Regions from separate parts of the Homo sapiens genome. Here region 1 is linked to region 2. Evidence: fine-mapped expression QTL. Tissue or cell type: whole blood. Region 2 holds a variant in brackets; the other region holds the start of a gene. All regions are shown on one strand. Distances are between the middles of the regions.

Evidence for each region. PIP is the estimated chance that this variant, and not a neighbour inherited with it, causes the effect.
Region 1: it holds the start of SIPA1L1, and the variant in region 2 is fine-mapped to the expression of SIPA1L1 in whole blood (TOPMed, PIP above 0.99).

What each region holds. Positions count from the first base shown.
Region 1 is chr14:71,315,809-71,326,626 of GRCh38, forward strand. SIPA1L1 (signal induced proliferation associated 1 like 1) reads left to right here and starts at 4,668. Exons shown (of 24, transcript NM_001386936.1): 1 at 4,668-4,695; 2 at 5,314-5,373. SIPA1L1-AS1 (SIPA1L1 antisense RNA 1) reads right to left here and starts at 6,040. Exons shown (of 4, transcript NR_184180.1): 1 at 5,866-6,040. RefSeq lists enhancers at 4,147-4,306, 8,994-9,293 and a silencer at 4,567-5,586.
Region 2 is chr14:71,145,517-71,156,334 of GRCh38, forward strand. No RefSeq gene overlaps it. Among named protein-coding and RNA genes, the nearest start is that of SIPA1L1, 170 kb to the right of the region's middle. The variant C/T (reference allele first, on the strand shown) is at 4,556.

The DNA.
Region 1 (10,818 bases), 170 kb after region 2:
AGGGAACCGGTTTTGAGAGGGATATCTGGAGTTCAGGAGGGCACTGGTTTTTGGGGGAATATTTGGAGCTCATCAGTTTTAAACATGTGAAATTTGAAATACCTAGTACATAATCAATTGCAGATGTTGAGTAGCAGATGGATGTACAAATCTGGAGATGGGGGAGATGACTAGCCTGGAGGTGTAAGTTTGGGAGTATTTAATGTATAGATGGTATTTAAAACTATCAGACTGGTGAGCTCACCACAGAGTGAAAAGAGACCATAAAGAGATGTCCAAAGTCTGAGTCCTGGAGCCTCCTATGTTGAGAGGTTCAAGACTAAAAAGACCAGAAAGGTAGGATAAGAACTAGGATAGACTCTTGGCTCAGAAGCCAAGGGAAGAAAACATTTCAAGAACCAGCATGGTTGACCTCTTCCCTGCTGCTGAGGGCTCCAGCCAGGTGAGCTTGGAAGTTGAGCACCAGATTTAGCAATAAGGCAGTCACTGATGCCCCTGAGAAGACCTGTTGCTGTGGAGTAGTGGGGGTGAAAGGCTGCTCAGAGTGGATTCATGGGAAGGGAAGGATAGGAATTGAAGACACCAAGCATGGAAGAGCCTTTTGAAGATTCCAGTTATAAAGTGAAGCAGGGGGAGACATAAAATTTAGGAAGCATTTTAGTTTTTACCACGGCAGATATTCCAGTATGCTTGTAAGCCCTTAGAAGTGAAGCAGTAGAGAAGGAAAATTTGCTGATTCAAGAGAGAGTGGGGACAGTTGCTGAATCAATGTCCCTGAGTTAGAGGTGATGGCACTAATGCACAGACCGAGGCTAATCTTGGCTAAGAGCACCAAGAGTTCATAAATGACAGGAAGGACAGAGGAGTATATGCAGACAGATGCAGGCAGGTTGGTAGACAAGAGTGATAGAGAGGGTATGTGTGTTCAGTTCTCTTCTGATTATTTCTATTTTACCAACAAAAGAGGGAGCAAGGCCATTAGCTAGAAGTACTAGGCAGAGGTTTGATTAAGGAGGAGAAGATGTGAAACAGTCCTTTAAAGAGGAGGGAAGAGCACAGGGAAGTATAGTAGTTTTGCTGTTAATTGATTAACAGAACGTTATAATTATTTATAACAACGTTATAAAGTAGTTGGTGTTTTAAACTTGTAATGAATACTACTATGTAAATGAGAGAAGGGGCATTTGCTAAGGAATCCAGTATTCATGTAAACAGAGTTACATCAATAAGGCTAAAATAATAACACCCTAAAATTAAAACAACATGGGATATCATTTAATCCTGAATAATTTTGAGGGCACTTTGGACCTTTGTAATGATTTAGAGTAATCTTTCTAAATATCACTTAGAATAATGCCCTGCAGATGTACAGCTACTGGAGTTCTGAATAGGCCAGTTAAATCAGATTTTAAATGTAAAACATGCAAATGTGAGTCAGTGTTTATAATATTAAAAAATACATAAAATTTGTATGGTAGGCCTCTGTGTCAAAATTCATTCTATATTTGGTATACACTATACATTAGGGTGTTTTGTTGAGTAGAGGTAAATAACCAGAGGGAAATGAATTCACCTGGGTTTTAACGAAATAAGAAGCAAATAGGGAGGGAACAACATAGCAAATGACTAGATGTTCTTATCACTAGAAAGGTTACATATCCTTTGTGTTGGAGGGCAAAGGCAAGGGGTTGAGCAGAGATGGGTAGAGGAGCCAAGACAGTGGACAGGAAGTGGACTGAGATCTAGTCTGTGCTCTTGGCAAACTCTCCATTCCGCATTTCCCTCTTCTGCTGCCTGACATCTGCTATTTTGAAACCTAGGAAGGTCAGGAAGATACAGCAGGAGTGACTGACCTAGAGAATGTGCAGTTGGAAACTAGGCTTTGGTAGCTTTCACTTTTTATCTCCTTTAGAAACACGGATGAAAGTTCTGCCATCAGTGAGGGATAAATAGTAGCCCAGGGCCTTGAAAAAGCAGTTTTAGATCCCTGGGACAATTTCTACTATTTTACTATGTCTGAAGATTAGGGAGGTTATTTTTGTAATTTGAGGCCAACACCCATCTCTTGAGCCTTATATGAAGCACTGAAGAATGTTAATAGATTTGGCTAGCATTTGGGTCAATTATTTCAAATGGCTATCTGGGAGTCATAAAACAGATGGTCCTGAAATTGTACTGCGTTGGTGGATGTAGATTGGCAGCCATCTTTTAAGGGCAAAATTATGTTAAAAGCTAAGCCAGAACAAATGAGCAACAACTGATTTATAATATTTTGCAATGTTATGAAAAATGGTTCCTTAAAACAGATTCACAGGACTGATGGTGATGTTCCATTGTGTTTCTTTGTGAAAATGTGATATTAAACACACCAGTAAATGAATCTGAGGCCCTCCGTCCTTCCCCTCCTCCCTCCCTCCCTTCCTTCCTTCCACAGATCTAGTCTTCGCTCCTTCCTTCCTTCCTTCCTTCCTTCCTTCCTTCCTTCCTTCCTTCCTTTCCTTCCTCCCTCCCTCCCTCTTTCCTTATAGTTATTTTGGGAGTATGGATGTATTTAGTTTGGGTCTTTGGTTTTAATTAGAGTATTTATTAAATAACAAGGAATCTGCTTTGAGTTAGTGTAAAAGCAAATCATGAACTATAGATTACCTTTGAAATTACTGTAACATGGTCAATATTTTTGTTGTTTTTGTAGTTGGGACAAGATAAATTTTAAAATAAAATTGTCAACATTTAAAGAAAATTGTCAACATATAGCTACTCTTTGTGAAACTGACCTACTATAAGATGAAACTTTTTTTATCATTTGCTGTAAAAGGAAGATTTGTTATTTATTGGAAAATTTTATAGGTCTAAGAGCTCTTATATTAAATTATATATATATATATATATATATATATACTCACACATACATATGTGTATATATATTTAGATGCAGGATCTCACTGTGTTGCTCAGGCTGGAGTGCAGTGGTGTGATCAGAGGTCACTGCAGCCTTTAACTCCTGGGCTCAAGTGATTCTCAAGCCTCGGCCTCCTGAATAGCTGGGACTACAGGTGCATGTCAGTATACCTAGCTAATATTTTTTATTTTTGTAGATACAGGGTCTCTCTATGTTGCCCAGGATAGTCTCAAACTCCTGGCTTCAAGCAGTCTTCCCACCTGGGCCTCCCAAAGTGCTGGGATTATGCATGTGAGCCACCATGCCGGCCAGCTATAGAATTTTAAAGCTGTAATAACCTAACATGTGGGGTACCCCCCACAGATGAAGAATCAGAGAGATTAAATAACTTCTCAAGGAGACTCAATTATTAGTGGCACAGAAAAACGTAAACCCTAGTTTGCTGACTTTGTCTAGTATCACTTAGGTTTCTAATACACAAACTTTCATTGACAGGATTTAAACTTGCAAGTGACTTACAAGTTTTGACTGCCTAGTCCTCATATGCTTAGGTTATGCTTTAGGTTTCTAGTTCTGTGGGACTGAGTTAAATAATGGTTTCCCCATGTTCATGGATAGGAATTTTAAAAATTGAGATATAATCCACATACAATGGTATCTATTTTTACTCATTCATTTTGAAATCTAAAGTTTAACTTCTATTCATAATATCCATTTTACTTAGGCAGTGAGTATATAATAACCCTCACCTCAGAAAAGTTTCTACAGTTAAAAGACACGGGCTGAGGAGAGTTCATCTTCATCCTTACTAGCATTTTGGAGTACGTATAAAGGCGTCTGCGGATGCCTAATGATTAAAAAAAAAGTTCCCCTCACCATGGTGAATAGGGTTTTTACGAGAAAAATATGGAGAAAGCAGAGATTATTACCATTGAAAAAGACAAGGTGTTAACAGAAATGGGAGGGTAGCTTGATAGAGTCCAAACTTGACTGAACTCTCTAGGTTAGGGCCAAAGGCAAGTACTGAGGACAGGCATGGACTGTTGCGTTCAACTTGTCAAAAAAGTGGCCAATATGTAGTATGGACCAAGCCTATAGAGGCGCTGAGAATACAGAGATGAATGAGCCAGTTCCTGAAGGAGCCCAGTCTGCGTGTGTTTGCGAGTTGAGAAGAGGAGGAGGGAGGCAGCATGGGGAGTGTGGGGATGGAGGAATTAGATTGAAAGAGAAGGCCGAAAAACTGAATATATAGTAGAAATTTGGGGTGCAGATATGTGCTGCCTAGAAAGGCAGAAACCTGTCCCAGAACCTCTTAATACATTAGTCTCATTTGCCAAATTTGGCCAGATATCATGACTGTGGTCCTCTCGAGATGCCCTCTTGAATCGGCTTAAAAATTATCCTTCCGCAACCACCCCTAGCTTTCCCCACCGCCAGTGCGCCGGGCAGGTTGAAAACTGCACCCACGTTTGCAGCCTCTGCTCTCCGCAGGAGACAGGAATCCAGGGCTTTGCCGTCGTCATAGCAACCAGAAGTTCCGCGGTCCCCTACCCTCCCGCGACTTTTTCCACTTCCTCCGCCTGCAGGGCCCAGCCGCCGCTTCTCTCGCGAGACTTGTGCGCCGCGCTAAGCCGCTCCGTGGTGATCTCACCCGAGACTTGGGGGAGAGGGAGGAGTGAAGGAGGGGAAGGAATGGGGCGGGAGGCGGGGCGGGGAGGGGAAGGGCGAGTGAGGCGCCGCCACTGCCGGCAACTTTGTGAGCGAGTTCAGTGCGTGCGTGAGCGAGTGAGCGAAAAGTCAGTGCAGCGCCGAGTCCCCGGCTGGAGGGTCCCCGGGGAGGGCCAGGTCTGGGCCCCAGAGGCCGCCCCCGCAGCCACTCCATTCCCTCCCGCCTCTGTGGCTCCCTCCCCATTTCCTCCCCCACCGGTCGTTGGGGCCTTCCCGCCCCCGTCCGCACTTACCTGTCCCCTCCCCCATGCGGTACGCACCTCCTCATCCCCCCCCCGGCAACCTCGCGCCCACCTTGGACCTTCGGAGCCCGGACCCCCGCACTTGCTTCCCGTACTGGCCGCCCCCTCAGTTCTTTCTGCTGGCGGGCGGGATGGGGGCGCTGAGCCTCGGGGACGGCGCGAGCGGGGGCCCGGGCGCCTAGACAATAGTTGATGCCCAAGGACGGGGCCACCTCCGCCTTCCCCTCCTCCGGGAGCTCGGCCCCCGCCGGCCCCCCGCCAGCCTGTATTCCGGGTCCCCCTCGGAGCCAGCCTCGGGAATTGGGCTGATTCCACCCCCGCCTCCCTCGGGCCCCCCTCCGCTCCGCGCTCGGCGCCCGCCTCGGGCCGGCCTCGCCGCTCTCCGCAGAGGAGGCGGCGAGTGAGCGCGCGCCGGCCGTCTACACGGTTTCTCTTTCTCCCCAGGGAGAGCGCGCGGCGGACGCGCCCGGGACGCGCGGCGGCACCGGGAGGCCGGGCCGAGCGGTAAGTGGTCCCCGCGCCCGGGTCCTGGGGGGAGCGGGGGTGCAGGACGGCTGACAGCCCCCTGCCCTGTTTCTGGCCGGGGTTGGGGTCCAGGGCCCGGAGCAGGACCCCAGGAGGCCGGTTAAAGTTTGATTTTCGATTTGGTGGCTTGCTGGTAGCTTAGCCCGGCGGGGGCGAGTCCGGCTTCACCGCGCCCGGCGCGCGCGCACGCACCCCAGAACCCGAATCTGCACAACTACTGGGCAGGCGTCTCTGCGGGAGGCCAGGAGACCCGCGTCCCGGTCCGGGCGGTTGCGTCCACCCCGCTGAGCTGGTCGCCACCTGGCGACCCTTCCCCTCCAGTCACCTGGGTGAGCGCTTTGCAGCCTGAGCTGGAGTAGGCAGGCCGAGTTGGTTGAGTTGTGGGAAATGGAGACGAACAGCTCGGTGCCCGAGGGTGGTTAATTTCCCCTTTGGGGGTCTTGGGGACATGAAATTTTGGGATGCTCTAACCTGCTTTCCGGGGAGCGAGTAAACCGCGAAAGGGCTGGGAAGGCGTGAGGGTGCCGCAAAAAGAACTTTTCCTCCTTCGCCCCATCTGTTACCAGCTTCTCTCCTGACCTTAAAGGAAATTTCCGAGGCTCTTAAATCGCTCCACGGCATTTCTAGGTGGACCAGTAATCGTGTTGGGCAGGTTGAAATTTCATCGCGGTTTGGAGAACAGAGAGACATGGGAAATGGCTCACTTCCAAGGAAGATGTTTAGCTAAATTGTTGGCATTCGTTTTCTAAGAGAAGCATTTGGGGATTGATGGCTCCTAGACTACGATTACCTTATAGATTTTATTTTTCCTGACGGGTAGTTTAGAGGCAGCATTCGCTGAAATGCATACTACCTGTGAAACGATCATGTTTCTAAACTGGAGCCAGCGATGTGATGCAAATTTCAGAATAAAGGTGTCGACTTTCATCAGGTTCCAGGTCTATCTGGATGGACTGGGATTGGCGTTTCCTCTATAAAGCAAACCTTTCATGTTGAAACTCTGAGTCAGACTCTTAAAGCCATTGTCTTTATGCTGGTACTCTGTGGGAGTTAAGTGTCAACTTTCTCCTGTTTTCTCCTATGGAGTATCCGTCCAAGGCAAAGATTCTCTGACTGAATCTTTTGGAAACGTGCAAGGTTAGATCATACTGAATTCTGCAGCCAGTTTAGTAATAATATTAGTTTTCTATATAATCCTGATTTAACGACTGTCATTTTTCTCTTCGTTTTTTGAAAGCTGCAATTAAGCTACCTTTACCAGGATTTAAAAAAGAGGATAATATGGAACAGTGGTAATAACAGTAGGTCTCAGCTAATTTATTATGGCCACCGATGTGTCCAACTATTAGATGACATCCCAGTTATTAACTACAATATTAATATTAAAACATTTTTCCCATGGAATCAATTATGCTAAAGCATTAACAATTAACAGTGCATTTAAAATGATGAGTGATTGTTTCCACATAAATGGTTAGAGGCAAAATAAGAGATTTGGGGGATGAATGGCTTTATGTCTCTGACAACTAATTTTCTTATTAATGCTTAAGTAAAGGACTCTTGAAGTTGACTGTCATTTGATTTTTCTAGTTGACTGAGTGAACAAGTTTGGTGAGTGGCTTGAGACAGTCAGTAGGTGTTGCTGTTGTTAGCTTCTCTGCAGTTCCTGCTTCTGCTCCTCGAGTTTGAAATTGCAATTCTGGTACAGTGAACTTTTAAAATCTGAAGTATCAGTCAGTGATAGTTGTGATTTCATTGGAGGAGTCTATGGCAAGGTTGACTTCAACTCCAGGTAATAATTGCAAAGCACCTCTCTGATACTTTGTACTGAGATTCATTTAACTCTTCTTTTGTCTCTGTCCTTACACTAGTATTTTCAGGCTTCTGCATTTGCTTTGCTTTTGCTTTGAAGTATGTGTGTAATTTTGGTATAGTGCCCCCATCTTCATTGTTTAGGAACTTTTAAAAAACACTTTCTAGTGAGTTTATTGAAGTCATAGATTGAAGATTGCTTGAGATTAGCAGTTTTGTAGACTTCGGGGGGATCTTGGTTGAGTTGTGATGTATATATGTTCTATCTTAAGTTGCAATCTGAATTTTTAGATAAATGACTGTTTTTCTTTTTTTAAAAATCTGTTTGAGCTGTGAAATGGGAGCATGAGGAGAGCTGAAATGGTATGAGAGTGGAATTTGATGGAAAGTTTGTCATGATTAATAATGTGACTATGTGCCTCTTATCAGTCCTTACCGTTGTATTATCATTGTTATTGGTCCGTATCAGTGCACAAATGAAGTATGAATATCCTGAAGATTTTTTGTTGACATCTCAGATTTGAGCCTTTTGGTTCACTGACCATATTAGATTTTCTCTATGGAAGACAAATAGACTCATTCCCATAATAAAGAACTAGAGCGCTGATAGAGCACACTTTTTTTTTTCCCCTTTGGATCAAATCATGGAAGTTCAAATCTGAAAATAAATTCAGAAATTTCTTTTTTTCCCCATAGCATCCCTATATTCCTAACCTTTTGAGTGGTGAGTCAAGCAATATTTATTGAATGCTGCTATCTGGCAGGTGCACTTTTGGTTTCTGTGATTACAGTGATGAGCAAGAGTGTACCTGGCCACATGGAACTTGTAGTCCAGTGGGACCATTTGTAGTAATATTTTCTGGCATGGAGTTATGGTACCCTGATGCCCTCGTAAAGGTTATACATAATAGGCAATTATTTTTGAATTTTAATATATTTTAACATTTTGAAATAATGTAACCTAGAATTTGTCCTCAGAAGGTCTGGGTTTCAAATACCTGCCCTGCCATTTTCGTTGTGAGATATTGAAAAATAATTGAACTTCTTTCTGAACTTTACTGTTGTTTCCTGCGGAGATGGGCTCAAGACTTGCTTCACAGATGAGCTACAAAAATTGATGAGAATACATGTATGAAAGTACTTTGTAAACTATAAAGTCTTATTTGTAATAGGGTTTTCTTACTTTTTGTTGGACAGATTCATGGATTGTTGGAACTAGGAGGGATTTTGACTCATTTGGCTCATGTTTCCCATTTTACGTATGAGGAAACTGAAGCCCAGAAAGTTGAAGTGATTTGTTGAAGGTTATAGAACTGGTTAATGACTAGGCAGTGATTGGAAGACAGGTGTCCATATTTAATTGCACTCGTTTCTTTTCTTTTTTTCCTACCTTAGAGCCTGTTATGTTAAAATTTTACTACTTTCTCCCCCCACTTAAGAGTTCAGTATTTATTAAATATCCAAAATGAGGAGATGCAAAACTTAAGGAAACGAACGATCTGTGGTGAGGTTGTAAAGCTATGAAAACAACATTGGTAACCGAGCTTCATAATTAAATGACAAAGTTACAGAAAAAGAAAATATGAGTTAAAGTTTCTACATAGTAGAGCCTGTAGGCTTTTTTGTTTTGTTTCATTTTTAAAGAAATCTTTATTTGCACAGAGCATAATGTACTCTTTAGCTCTTTAGAAAAGCTAAACTCAGTTTATTTTGGTTCATCTTTTTCTTCTCTTTTTAAACTCATTTCCATTTGCGGAAGAAATTAGGTGTACCATCCTTGTTTCTGGACCATGGCCAACTAAATTTTAGACCTTTTTTCTCAGCGACATGTAAGGGTAACCAGAGATTGGGGCTGGGGGTGTTAGGTGGAGAGATAAAACAGGACATAAAACAGGAACGTGTAGGAGCTTCCTGTTGAAAATGGGACTGATTTATGTTGCGCCACCCTACCTTCCAGTGGAGTAATCTGAGCCAGCAGAGAAGAAACTTCCCTGCTGGTTGGGTGAATGCCCTTGAGGTGAGGGGGTTTCCTTCTTCCGGGAGAGATAAGCATTGTGGTATTCTGCCATTGCTCACACAGAAGTTTGGGTCTTATTCTACAGACAGACGCAGTAAAATAAGGGTGTTCCACTATCCCTTGAGACTGACAATCTGACCTTCTATCTGCTGCACTTCTACTTTTTTGGTATGGGAAATCAATTGGCCTCATTGAATTTTTGCTTTTAGTTTTTTTCTATGCCTAGCTAATCAAAAACAAAAACAAAACCCACATGCTTTGATGACACCTTGCTTTCAAAGGTTATATTTAAGTTAATTATTCTTAAATGATAGCTCATTTATTTTTATTCAGTGGACTGTTGATGAGCTCTGGAGTGAGTCTTAGAAGCATGGGAAAGATTTGTGGCTTCTGGGTCTTTTAAACATGGATGATTTGCATAAGGGACAGAGCAACACAGTGATTTGGTTTGTGATCATGAGGGTACAAAAAACCATCAGGGCAGATCTTTTAATGGTAGGTAATGTTCACCAGTCAACAACCATTTTCTCCTTTTATTCTGGCCTGGAGAGAGTAAGATAACCCCATTTGCAAATAGAACAGAGTGTTTTCTTAAAGGCATAGAGAGATGACACCAAAATGACATGGAGGGATGTCAGGAGCTGCTTTAGCTGGCCCGTAGTAAGTAGTAGTGCATTGGTGGGTGTGCCACAAAGTCAGGCGAAGCCATTTCTCTTTGCCTCTGGAGTCTGGGATGAGAAATTTCAACCTGTAGATTTCCAATTTGTTGCTTGTCATGTTGCACTAAGTTCTCCCTCTAATTAGGATTTAGTATGCCTAAGTTGAAATTGCGGGAAGCAGGCAATTACATAATGTTAGATTTCCCTTTTTCCAATTCAGGAAAGGCAGGAGAATGTGTGCTTGTTATGAATGCCAGCTTGGGGAGGGAGAATTGCTGGTTCACACAAACTCGGGGGTCACTCAAAGGCAACTTGAGCAGAACTGACAGCCAGTGCTGCTGCCATTGGATTCCTTTTTTCCTCTTTCCTCCCACAGAGCAGGTCTAGGTTAAATGAATTTCACAGATATGAAAGTTAATTGTGGTTATTTCTTTTCTCTTTCTACTTTTTCCACAAAGCCTTTTACCAAAGCTATGAACAGGTATAGTCATTGATGGTTTTGTGGTTCAGCGACTTGCTTCTTTTTTTTTTTTTTTGAGATGGAGTCTCGCTGTGTCACCCAGGCTGGAGTGCAGTGGCATGACCTCGGCTCACTACAACCTCTGCCTCCTGGGTTCAAGCGATTCTCCTGCCTCAGCCTCCCGAGTAGCTGGGATTACAGGCACACGCCGCCACACCTGGCTGATTTTTATATTTTTAGTAGAGGCAGGGTTTCGCCATGTTGGCCAGGCTGGTCTCAAACTCCTGACCTTAGGTGATCCGCCTGCCTCAGCCTCCCAAACTGCTGGGATTACAGGCAGGAGCCACCACACCTGGCCGACTTGCTTCTTTTTATAATGAGTTCTGAACTGCTCAGAAAGAAGCTATTGAGAAAGAAAAGCAAAGGGCTGTGTGCCAAACGATCGTGTTCCTATAATCAAGACTTGACTATGGTCA
Region 2 (10,818 bases):
TGCCGGTAGCAATAAGTCCCTGGCTGCCTCAACAAAATGTGGTCATTCCCTTACGACAAAAACTAGACCTTACAAAAAAGGGTAGTCGAGCCTGAGGCCTGAGACCTGGGTCTAGTCCAGGCTCAGCCCAAGCTCTCTCTGTGACTTTGGGCAGGGCTACCAAGCCTCTTGGTGTCCTCAACTGAACAATGGAAAAGTCAGACCAGATCAACCTGAGTTCCGTTCAGCAACAACGTGCTACACTGCTGTGTTTGCCTTACCTTCCTATGTGGAAATTAAGCCCAGTAGAGCTAGTAACTCAGGCTTTGACCTCTTTCTTGCTCTGTCAAGGCCTGAACTCCTGTCTTTTCCAATGATTTGACCCTGAGTCTCCCATTTCCTTTCACAGAATGAGGCCTGCTGGAGCCGACAGGGGATCTGTGTTGGGGATAGATGCTGCTGACAACCTGAAAAAGAATCCACCCTATGGCTCTGAAATTAACAGTGTTCAGCAGTCTTGTGGGCAGAGTGAGAGCACCTGCCCTCTGGAGCTGTCCTGGGGAGCCCCAGACCAGAGGAGTGAGGAGTGCCCTCTGTTGCAGGTGGGGGTGGCGGGACGGGAGTGTGGAGATCCAGAGTGGCCACCAGGCCATTGCTCAACCTAGTTCCTGCTCAGTCCCTCTGGGGCTGGCAGACTTCACAGTCCAGCTTGCTCTGGGGAGACCATATTCCGAAGGCGGCAGCATCCACCACCGTCCTGGGGCTCTGTCTTTCAAAGAGAAGCCTCTGTCCTTTTCAAAGACAGAACACCTGTGCTTGGCAGGCAAGAATAACATTGAGGGTGGGAAATCCCACTCTCCAAAATATTATAAAACAGAAAGTATGAAGGAATTAAAGTCCATTGAAAAAGTATCCTGAGACCGGGTGCAGTGTAGATGCCTGCAATTCTAGCACTTTGGGAGGCTGAGACAGGAGGATTGCTTGAGGCCATAAGTTTGAGACCAGCCTGGGCAACAAAAATGAGACCCAGTCTCTACAAAAAAATTTCAAAATTAGCCAAGCATGGTAGCTCGTGCTTGTAGTCCCAGCTACTCAGGAGGCTGAGGTGGGAGGATTGCTTGAGCCCAGGAGTTCAAGGTTACAGTGAGCTATGATTGTGCACTGCATTCCAGCCTGGGGAGCAGACTGAGTGGGTGGCCCTGTAGCAAAAAATAGAAAAGAAAAGAAAAGGTATCCTGGACTACCAGGAATGATGGTAATAATGATGCTAGCACTTATTAAGAATTTAATAGATGCCCTGAACTCAGCTCAGTGCTTTACATGAATTATCTCATTTAATTCAGGACACAATTGGAGATAGTTATGCTTTTTACCCCCATTTTACAGATTGGGAAACTGAAGTTACAGTGTTCTTCAAAGTCTTTCAACTAATAAGGTCTAATGATTTTATCCTGGAAGCACACATGGAAATTTTCTTGTTCTCTAGTCTTGGTAGGTAAAATTTGGGATATCTTGGCAGGTGTGACCTAAGTTATCACAAAGCATGTCCAATTATTGGGAAAGAAGATGATGTTAGTTACTGGGTGGTGGTGGTGGGAGGGGTGGTCTAGCTAATGACTGGCATTTTAAACTAGAATCATTAAGATCCATTATTAATCTTCATTTCATTCATTTTTATCTATTTATCCTTCTATTCATTAATTCAATCAATAAAAACTTATTTGTGGGCGGCAAGCCACCCAGGTGCCAAGGCAGGAGACTGAGGGTATGAGCTGTTCCAGTATAATAAAATATATAAAATAAGAATAGTTATAGTAGATATAGATCTTAGATATGATTATATATGAATAACAATCATTAATTTGTAGCAATAATTCTTTATTCCAATATTATAATAATCCTTGCTCTACAATCATAACCTAGGAAAAACCAGGCCACACAGAGATAGGAACTGAGGGGACATAGTGAGAAGTGACCAGAAGACAAGAGTGTGAGCCTTCTGTTATGCCCAGACAGGGTCACCAGAGGGCTCCTTGGTCTAGCGGTAACGCCAGCATCTGGGAAGACACCCGTTGCCAAGCGGACCGTGGTCTAGCGGTAGCATCAGTGTCAAGGAAAAACATCTGCTACTTAGCAGACTGGGAAAGGGAGTCTCCCTTTCCCTGGGGGAGTTTAGAGAAGACTCTACTCCTCCACCTCTTGTGGAGGGCCTGACATCAGTCAGGCCCGCCTGCAGTTATCCAGAGGCCTAACAGTCTCCCTGTGATGCTGTGCTTCAGTGGTCATGCTCCTAGTCCACCTTCATGTTCCATCCTGTACACCTGGCTCTGCCTTTTAGATAGCAGTAGCAAATTAGTGAAACTACTAAAAGTCTCTGATAAGCAGAAATAATGGCATAAGCTGTCTCTCTCTCTCCTCTCTCTCTCTCTGCCTCGGCTGCCAGGCAGGGAAGGGCCCCCTGTCCAGTGGACATGTGACCCACGTGACCTTACCTATCATTGGAGATGGCTCACACTCCTTACCCTGCCCCTTTGTCTTGTATCCAATAAATATCAGCGCAGCCTGGCATTTGGGGCCACTACTGATCTCTGCGTCTTGGTGGTAGTGGTCCCCCAGGTCCAGCTGTCTTTTCTTTTACCTCTTTGTCTTGTGTCTTTATTTCTACACTCTCTCGTCTCTGCACATGGGAAGAAAGCCCATCAACCCTGTGGGACTGGACCCTACACTTATTGATAACTCAGTGTATGTCATGGATTGTGCTAATGGCTAGGGATGCAAAAAAGAGTCATACTCCATCCCCATCCTCAAGACATTCCTGGTCCAGTGCTGCCGGCAATAGTCAGAGGCCAAAGTCCCATAAGAAAGTGGCCTTCTGGCCCACTGACTTCTTCCCCAGGTCCGCCTAGAAATCTAACTGGGTTCAAGTCAGGCAAAACATGTACAACTTTATGATTTCTTGTCTGATGGAAATCCCCTGGACTTTTCCCTTTTTGTATTGGATGGATTTTAGTTCTCCTGGACATGCCAAAGCGGGTACGTGGCACCCCACAGCCATGAAGCCTTGGGCCCCTGCACCTGGTGCTTAGGTTCAGGGAGCCTCAGGAAGTCTTTCTCCTGACCTGACTCTCTTGTCTTAGGACACAATCTATGGGAAACTTCTCCCACAATACAAAGCCCAAACGCAAGAGAAGGGGCCAGCCTAAACCCAGCCTGGAGACATCAGCGTAGGGATCCACTGGGCACATACTGTCCTTGAGGTTTAGCCACCTGGCAACATGCTGGGCTGCTGCCGCCCTCCTCTTCTCCCCAGCCAGCCCTCACCAGGGTCTACAGGAAGTGGTTGCTCCCATAAGCTGTGTAGGCAGATGTTCCTGTGAGTGCTTCTCTCTGTCTCAGAAAAGGGAGTCAGGGCAGGAGATGTTCCTGCCATGCCTTCCAAATGGCAGATTTCCCTGCTGTTTCAATGAGGTCTCATGGCTTTCTGGATGTCAACTCTTCTCTCCTATACTCTAAGAAGTACAGAGATGGGCCAGTACTCTAAGAATCCAGACACTATTGTAAAATTCTCCCTACTTCCATTCAGCCAGGGAGCTCCTGGTCTGTTCCTTTGAGTTCTTGTTCCCTCAGTTCTTCTCTGGAAAGGCTGCCTCTGCCTGGATAGACCAGGCCCAAGATGCGTAGATGAATCAGACACATCCCTGCCCTTGAGGGCTGTCACAGGTCTCAGTGAAGACCTACAATAGAGCAGGGAATTGAGAAGGCTTGGAGGGAGGCAGGAGTAGGGTAGGAAACAATACAAAGGGAGGGAAGAGAAGGTGATGCTGGAGGTGCACCAGGAAGGAAATGGCAGTGATATGGTTTGGATCTGTGTCCCCATCCAAACTCATGTTCAATTGTAATGCCCAGTGTGAGGCTTGATGGGAAGTGATTGGATCATGGGGGCAGAATTCTCATGAATGGTTTAGCACCATCACCCCCCCTTGGTACTGTATAGCAAGTGAGTTCTCACGAGATCTGGTTGTTTAAAAGTGTGCAGCACCTGCCCCCCGACTTCCTCCTGCTTCATCCATGTAAGACGTGTCGGCTTCCCCTTCACCTTCCGCCATGATTCTAAGTTTCCTGAGGCCTCCCCAGAAGCAGAAGCCACTGTGCTTCCTGTATAACCTGTAGAACTGTGAGCCAATGAAACCTCTTTTCTTTATAAATTATCAGTCTCAGTTATTTCTTTATAGTCATGCGAGAACGAACTAATACAGTGTTGGGAACAGGCCCCCAAATCTGGCCATAAACTGGCCCCAAAACTGGCCATAAACAAAATCTTTGCAGCACCATGACATGTTCATGATGGCCATGATGCCCACGCTGAAGGTTGTGGGTTTACCAGAATGAGAGCAAGGAACACCTGGCCAACCCAGGGCAGAAAACTGCTTAAAGGTGTTCCTGAACCACAAACAATAGCATGAGCAATCTGTGCCTTAAGGACATGTTCCTGTTGCAGGCCCATCCCTTTATTTCGGCCCATCCCTTTATTTTCTGTAAGGAACGCTTTTAGTTAATCTACAATCCATAGAAATAA[C/T]GCTTATCACTGGCTTGCTGTCAATAAATATGTGGGTAAATCTCTGTTCGAGGATCTCAGCTCTGAAGGCTGTGAGACCCCTGATTTCCCACTCCACATGCTATATTTCTGTGAGTGTGTATCTTTAATTCCTCTAGCACCACTGGGTTAGGGTCCCCATGACTGAGCTGGTCTTGGCAATACAGAAAATTGTTACTGAGAAATGGGACATTGCTATAAAAATGCCTGAAAATGTGGAAGCGGATTTGGAACTGGATAATGGGCAGAGGCTGGAAGAGTGTGGAGGGCTCAGAAGAAGACAAGAAAATGAGGGAAAAATTGGAACTTCCTAGAAATTTGTTGAATGGTTGTGACCAATATGCTGATAGTCATATGGACAGTGAAGTTCAGGCTGAGGAGGTCTCAGATGGAGATGAGGAACTTATTGGGAACTGGAGCAAAGGTCACCTTTGTTATGCATTAGTAAAGAGGTTGCCTGCATTATGCCTCTGCCCTATGGATCTGTGGAACTTTGAACTGGAGAATGATGATTTATGGATCTGGCTGAATAATTTTTCTAAGCAGCAAATTGTTCAACAAGTGGTCTGGCTGCTTCTAACAACCTATGCTCATGTGCACGAGCAAAGAAATAACTTGAAGCTGGAATTTATATTTAAAAGGGAAGCAGAGCATAAAAGTTTGGAAAATTTTCAGCCTGGCCATGTGGTAGAAAAGAAAAGCCCATTTCCAAAGGAACAGTTCAAGCCAGATGCAAAAATTCGCATTACTAAAAGGAAAGCAAGAGCGAATAGCCAAGGCAATGGGGAAAGGGCCTCCAAGGCATTTCACAGACCTTCATGGCAGCCCCTTCCATCACAGGCCCGAAGGCCTAGGAGGACAGAACGGTTTGGTGTGCCAGGCCCAGGGCCCTGCCACCATGAGCGGCCTGAAGACACTGTTCCCTGCATCCTGGCTGCTTTAGCTCCAGCCTTAGCTCAAAGCAGCCCAGGTACAGCTCAGGCTGCTGCTTCAGAAGGTGCAAGCTATGAGCCTTCACAGCTTCCACATGGTCTTAAGTCTGTGGGTACTCAGAGTGCTAGAGTTGAGGTTTGGGACCCTCCACCGAGATTTCAGAGGATGTATGGAAAAGCCTGAATGTCCAGGCAAAAGCCTGCTGCAGGGGCAGAGCCCTCACTGAGAATTTCTACTAGGGCAGTGCAGAGGGGAAAGGTGGGGTTGGAGCCCCCACACAGAATCCCCACTGGGGCACTGCCTACTGGAGCTGTGAGAAGAGGGCCACCATCCTCCAGACCCCAGAATGGTAGATCCACTGACAACTTACACCATGCACCTAGAAAAGCAATGTGCACTCAACAACAGTTAATGAGAGCAGCCACAGGGGCTATTCCCTGCAAAGCCATAGGGCTGGAGCTGCCCAAGATCTTGGGAACCACTCCTTGCATCCAGTGTGCCCTGGATATGGGACATGGAGTCAAAGGAGATTATTTTGGAGCTTAAGATTTAATGACTGCCCTGCTGGGTTTCAGACTTGCATGTGGCCTGCAGCCCCTTTCTTTTGGCTTATTTCTCCCTTTTGGAATGGGAGTATTTACCCGATGCTTGTACCTTCATTGTATCTTGGGAATAACTAACTTTTTTTTTTAATTTTACAGGCTCATAGGTGGAAGGGACTAGCTTTATCTCAGATAAGACTCGGACTTTGTGCTTTTGAGTTAATGCTGGACACAGTTAAGACTTTGGGGACCATTGAGAAGGGATGATTCTGTTTTGGAATGTGAGAACATGAGATTTGGGAGGGGTCAGGGACAGAATCATATGGTTTGGATCTGTGTCCCCATCCAAATCTCATATTCAATTGTAATCCCCTACGTTGGAAGTGGAGCCTGGTGGGAGGTGATTGGATGGATCATGAGGGCAAAGTTCTCATGAATGGTTTAGCAGCATCCCCACCTTGGTACTGTATAGTGAGTGAGTTCTCATGAGATCTGGTTGTTTAAAAGTGTGTAGCACCTCCCTGCTATCTCTCTTCCTCCTGCTTAATCCACATAAAATGTGGCTGCTACCCTTTCACCTTCCGCCATGATTCTAAGTTTCCTGAGTCTTCCCCAGAAGCAGAAGCTGCTTTGCTTCCTGTTTAATTGGGTAATTTATAAAGAAAAGAGGTTTAATTGGCTCACAGCCCTGCCAATTAAACCTCTTTTCTTTATAAATTACCTAGTCTCAGGAATTTCTCTATGGCAATGTGGGAATGGGCTAATACAGGTGGCTAGAATATTCTCCAAGGGGAGGAACACCTGGGAACAGCAATGAGAACGGTGAGAAGCCTGGTGTAGCTACAGGAGGTGTAAGAAATTCACCCAGGCCGCTGGGGTTAAGCTCTGAGAGTTGTGGCTCACTGGTCCCTCTCAACTCGGACTCCCCCATCTGTAAGATGGGGATCCTCCAGATTAGGGTTGTGGTTGTGATGGTTAAGTGGGTCAGTACATGAAAAGGACAGAACAGTTCCTGGATGGGTGTAAGCACTATGCATGTGTTAGCTGGTGTTATGACTCTTATCCTCATGTCATGCCCAAAGATGTCAAGACTCAGCAATACATATTTTCTGAATGAATTTGTAAATGAGGCCTAGTTACATCAGTATAAATGTGTGTACTTCATAGACCTGCGAGCTGCAGGGGTATTGGAAAGAAGTCTTAACAATTAAAAAATAATAGGTATAATTTTTGGAGTTTCTACTATATACAAAGCATACATTTACATTTACTTCTTCTCTCTCACCAAAGATAAAAAGCTGATGATTATTCTCAATATAAAGATGAGGAAATTGAAGCTCAAAGACCTCTTCTTTTGGTCAGGATGCTGTTCTCTGCCTAGAATATAGGCTACTGATGATCATGCTACAAATTTTATTCTGAAAGGCAATTTTCTCTACTGGTTTTAGACATAATACAACTAAAGGAAAAAAGTGTTTTTGAAGATGCTTACAAGTTGGTCAGGCTTGGTAGCCATTCAATGAGAAAAGCAGAAAAAGACCTCACAGCTACCTCTGTCTTAAGAAGGAGTTCATGAGTCCAACTACCTGAGGTCAGAGCTGATGATCATAATTTATCGATGCTTCAGTGGGCCCAGGTGGACCTGGCCATGGAGGCCGATCTGCCTGTCTGGGCCCTCATGTTCCTGTTCAGTACACATACAGGTGGTGATAGGGAGGTGGAAACCCTGGCAAGGCAGATAAAAGAGCTCCGGTTTTAGAGTGAGTCAGACCTGAATTCAGAGCTGGCTCCGTCACTTACGCACTGTGCCATCTTGCACAGTTAACATTTTAGAAGTAAACTAAATGGTGATAATAATAACATGCCATAGAATTGGCATAAGGATGGAAGATAATGTATGCAAAAAATAATAAACATAGGCATAGACTCTGCCTTTCCATCATAATTACATTAATATAAAATTTTAAATTATTAGCTGCTTTTCAACTATGGGCAAACATTTGAAGCTTGATGATGTGCAGTGTTGGCAAGGCTCTGGCGAAACAGGTGCCATCATGTACTCTTAGTGGGAGTCTAAATTAGTGCAGCAGCTGTGAAAGGCAATTTGGTATTAGAAATCAAATTTTTTAATGCATATACTTTTTGATGTAGCAATTCCACTGCTCTGAATTTATCCTGTGAATATATTAATTTTAATTAGAGTATTGGATTGATTGCCATAATTGAGAACCCAAATAATAGTGGCTTAAACACAACAGAGGTATATTTCTTTCTGGACATAGTAGCCCAGCTTAATCAACCTACAGCTGTTGGTGTGGGAGTGTGTGATTCTGTGTTGTTGTGGGCCCAGGGTTCATATTTTGTTGCTCTGCTATCCTAGACTGCTATCCTCATCTGCATAATATAAAAGAGCTCCCCTCCACATCCACACTCCAGCCTGGGCCAATGGGGAAAGGTATGCAGCCACACTTCTTCCCTGTAAAGCCGCAATCCCAGAGTCACACGCATTGCTTCTGCTATGTCCCACTGACCAGCACTTAGTTGCTTGGTCATACCTGAATGCAGGACTGCCGAGAAATGTAGTCTTTATTCTGGGAGCCATGTCCCTATAGGTTGAGCATCTCAAATACAAAAATCTGAAATCTGAAATGCCCCCAAATTTGAAACTTTTTGAGCACCCACATTACACTCAAAGGAAATGCTCATTGGAGAATTTCAGATTTTCAGATTTGGGATATGCAACCAGTGTGCAACTATTCCAAAATCCAGAAGAAAATGGAAATCCAAAACACTTCTAGTTTCAAGCATTTCAAATAAATGTACTAAAATTCAGAGATGTTATATGACACTCATATATACAGGCAAAGATGTAAGCATAAGGATGCTCACTGCAGCATTTTTGTAACTGAAAAACCCTAGTAACAGTATGAATGATATCTACATTTACTTCTTCTCTCTCACCAAAGATAAAAAGCTAATTAGTAGGGGACTGATTAGAAAAAAAAAGACACGTTTGTTCAGTGGAACACTATGCAGCAGTTAAAAATGAATGTGGTAGGCTGCGCGTGGTGGCTCATGCCTGTAATCCCAGCACATTGGGAGGCTGAGGAGGGTGGATCACCAGGTCAGGAGATCCAGACCATCCTGACCAACATGGTGAAACTCCGTCTCTACAAAAAATACAAAAATTAGCCAGGCGTGGTTGTGCACACCTGTAGTCCTAGCTACTCGGGAGGCTGAGGCAGGAGAATCACTTGAACCAGAGAGGCAGAGGTTGCAGTGAGCCGAAATCGCACCACTGCACTCCAGCCCGGTGACAGAGCAAGACTTCGTCTCAAAAGAAAAAAAAAAAATTTGATGATAAAACCTGTTAATGTATGTAAAAGCCACGACACCTACCACATATCTGGGATGCAGCGCATACAGTCCAGTTTTCTATAGATTCCCTTTTCCCCAGCCCTTCAGAGCCAACCATTCCTTAGAGATTTGGATAACTGTCATTTAAACCTGCATCCTGGGAGCTTCAGGAAGCCCTGTGTCCTTCAAGCACATTTGAGCCTCCTTAGAGATCCTCTGAGTGTCTGTTGTCACCCTGGCAGTGAACTGTGGGATACAGCCTGCCCCATCCCCTCCAGCCAGCTCATCCGCCCCACTCCAGGCTGCTTTCTCTTCCCAGCCTGCTGCCCTGCTTGTCCATGCACAGGACTGACCAGGCTTTGGCCAGCTCTTGCTGGATGAAAATGGGTCTAACCTCAGAGAATTAGAACAAAGAGGAGAAGGACTGAAAACTCCTTACGGGATCAAAGAAATGTGACTTCGGCAATTTATTTAACCCCTCTAAACCTCTGATTCCTCATGTGTAAAATGGGAGTGATAGAAATAATATCTATTTCCCAAGGTTGTGAAGGAGTAGGGAGAATATGTGTACAACTGTTATGTTCTATGTCTCCAGTGTGCAGTATTTGTAAGGACACATTTCATCTACTATTCAGAATAGATGGCTTGGTCATCTGTGTCACTATCATGACCTGAGCCTTCTGCTCCTGGGGGGTCCTTCCCTGATAAATCCACTACCCCCAGGGTCAGAATCAGCTGAAGGCATCAGGTCCTGATTGCAATTTCCTTCTGGAGAGGAACTTGGAGAATCTCACCAGCCTGCCATAGAGTAGGAATCTGGGTGGTTGCTGTCACTTGAGTCGCACTGGAACTCTGGGCTACTCCTGCACTGTCCTCCTCTCTTGCCTTGTTGACCGGTGGAGAGCTAGCTAGGCACCTCACTGCAGCCAGGGCTCCTGCTGGCTGCTGCAAGCCCTGTCCACCATGGCCTCCATTTCTTCTGGACAATGAGGATGGGGGCGGGGTGGCCATGACTGCAGAATGTGCAGAATTCACATTCCTCCACTCCACCTCCCCCATCTGCGTGGCCTTGGCTGGGGGTTGCTGGTTGTAAGCACCAAGGCTTGAGTGTGTTCTTTAATTACTTAGCTCTTTGACCTCTTTCTCTCTCCTCCCTCTCTCTCTTTTTTTTTTTTTTTTTTTTTTGAGACGGGGTCTTGCTCTGTCACCCAGGCTGGAGTGCAGTGGCACGATCTCGGCTCACTGCAACCTCCACCTCCCAAGTTCAAGTGATTCTCCTGCCTCAGCTTCCCCAGTAGCTGGGATTACAGGTGCCCGCCACCCCACCTGGCTGATTTTTGTATTTTTTTTTTTAGTAGAGACAGGGTTTCACCATGTTGGCCAAGCTGGTCTCGAACTCCTGACCTCAAGTGA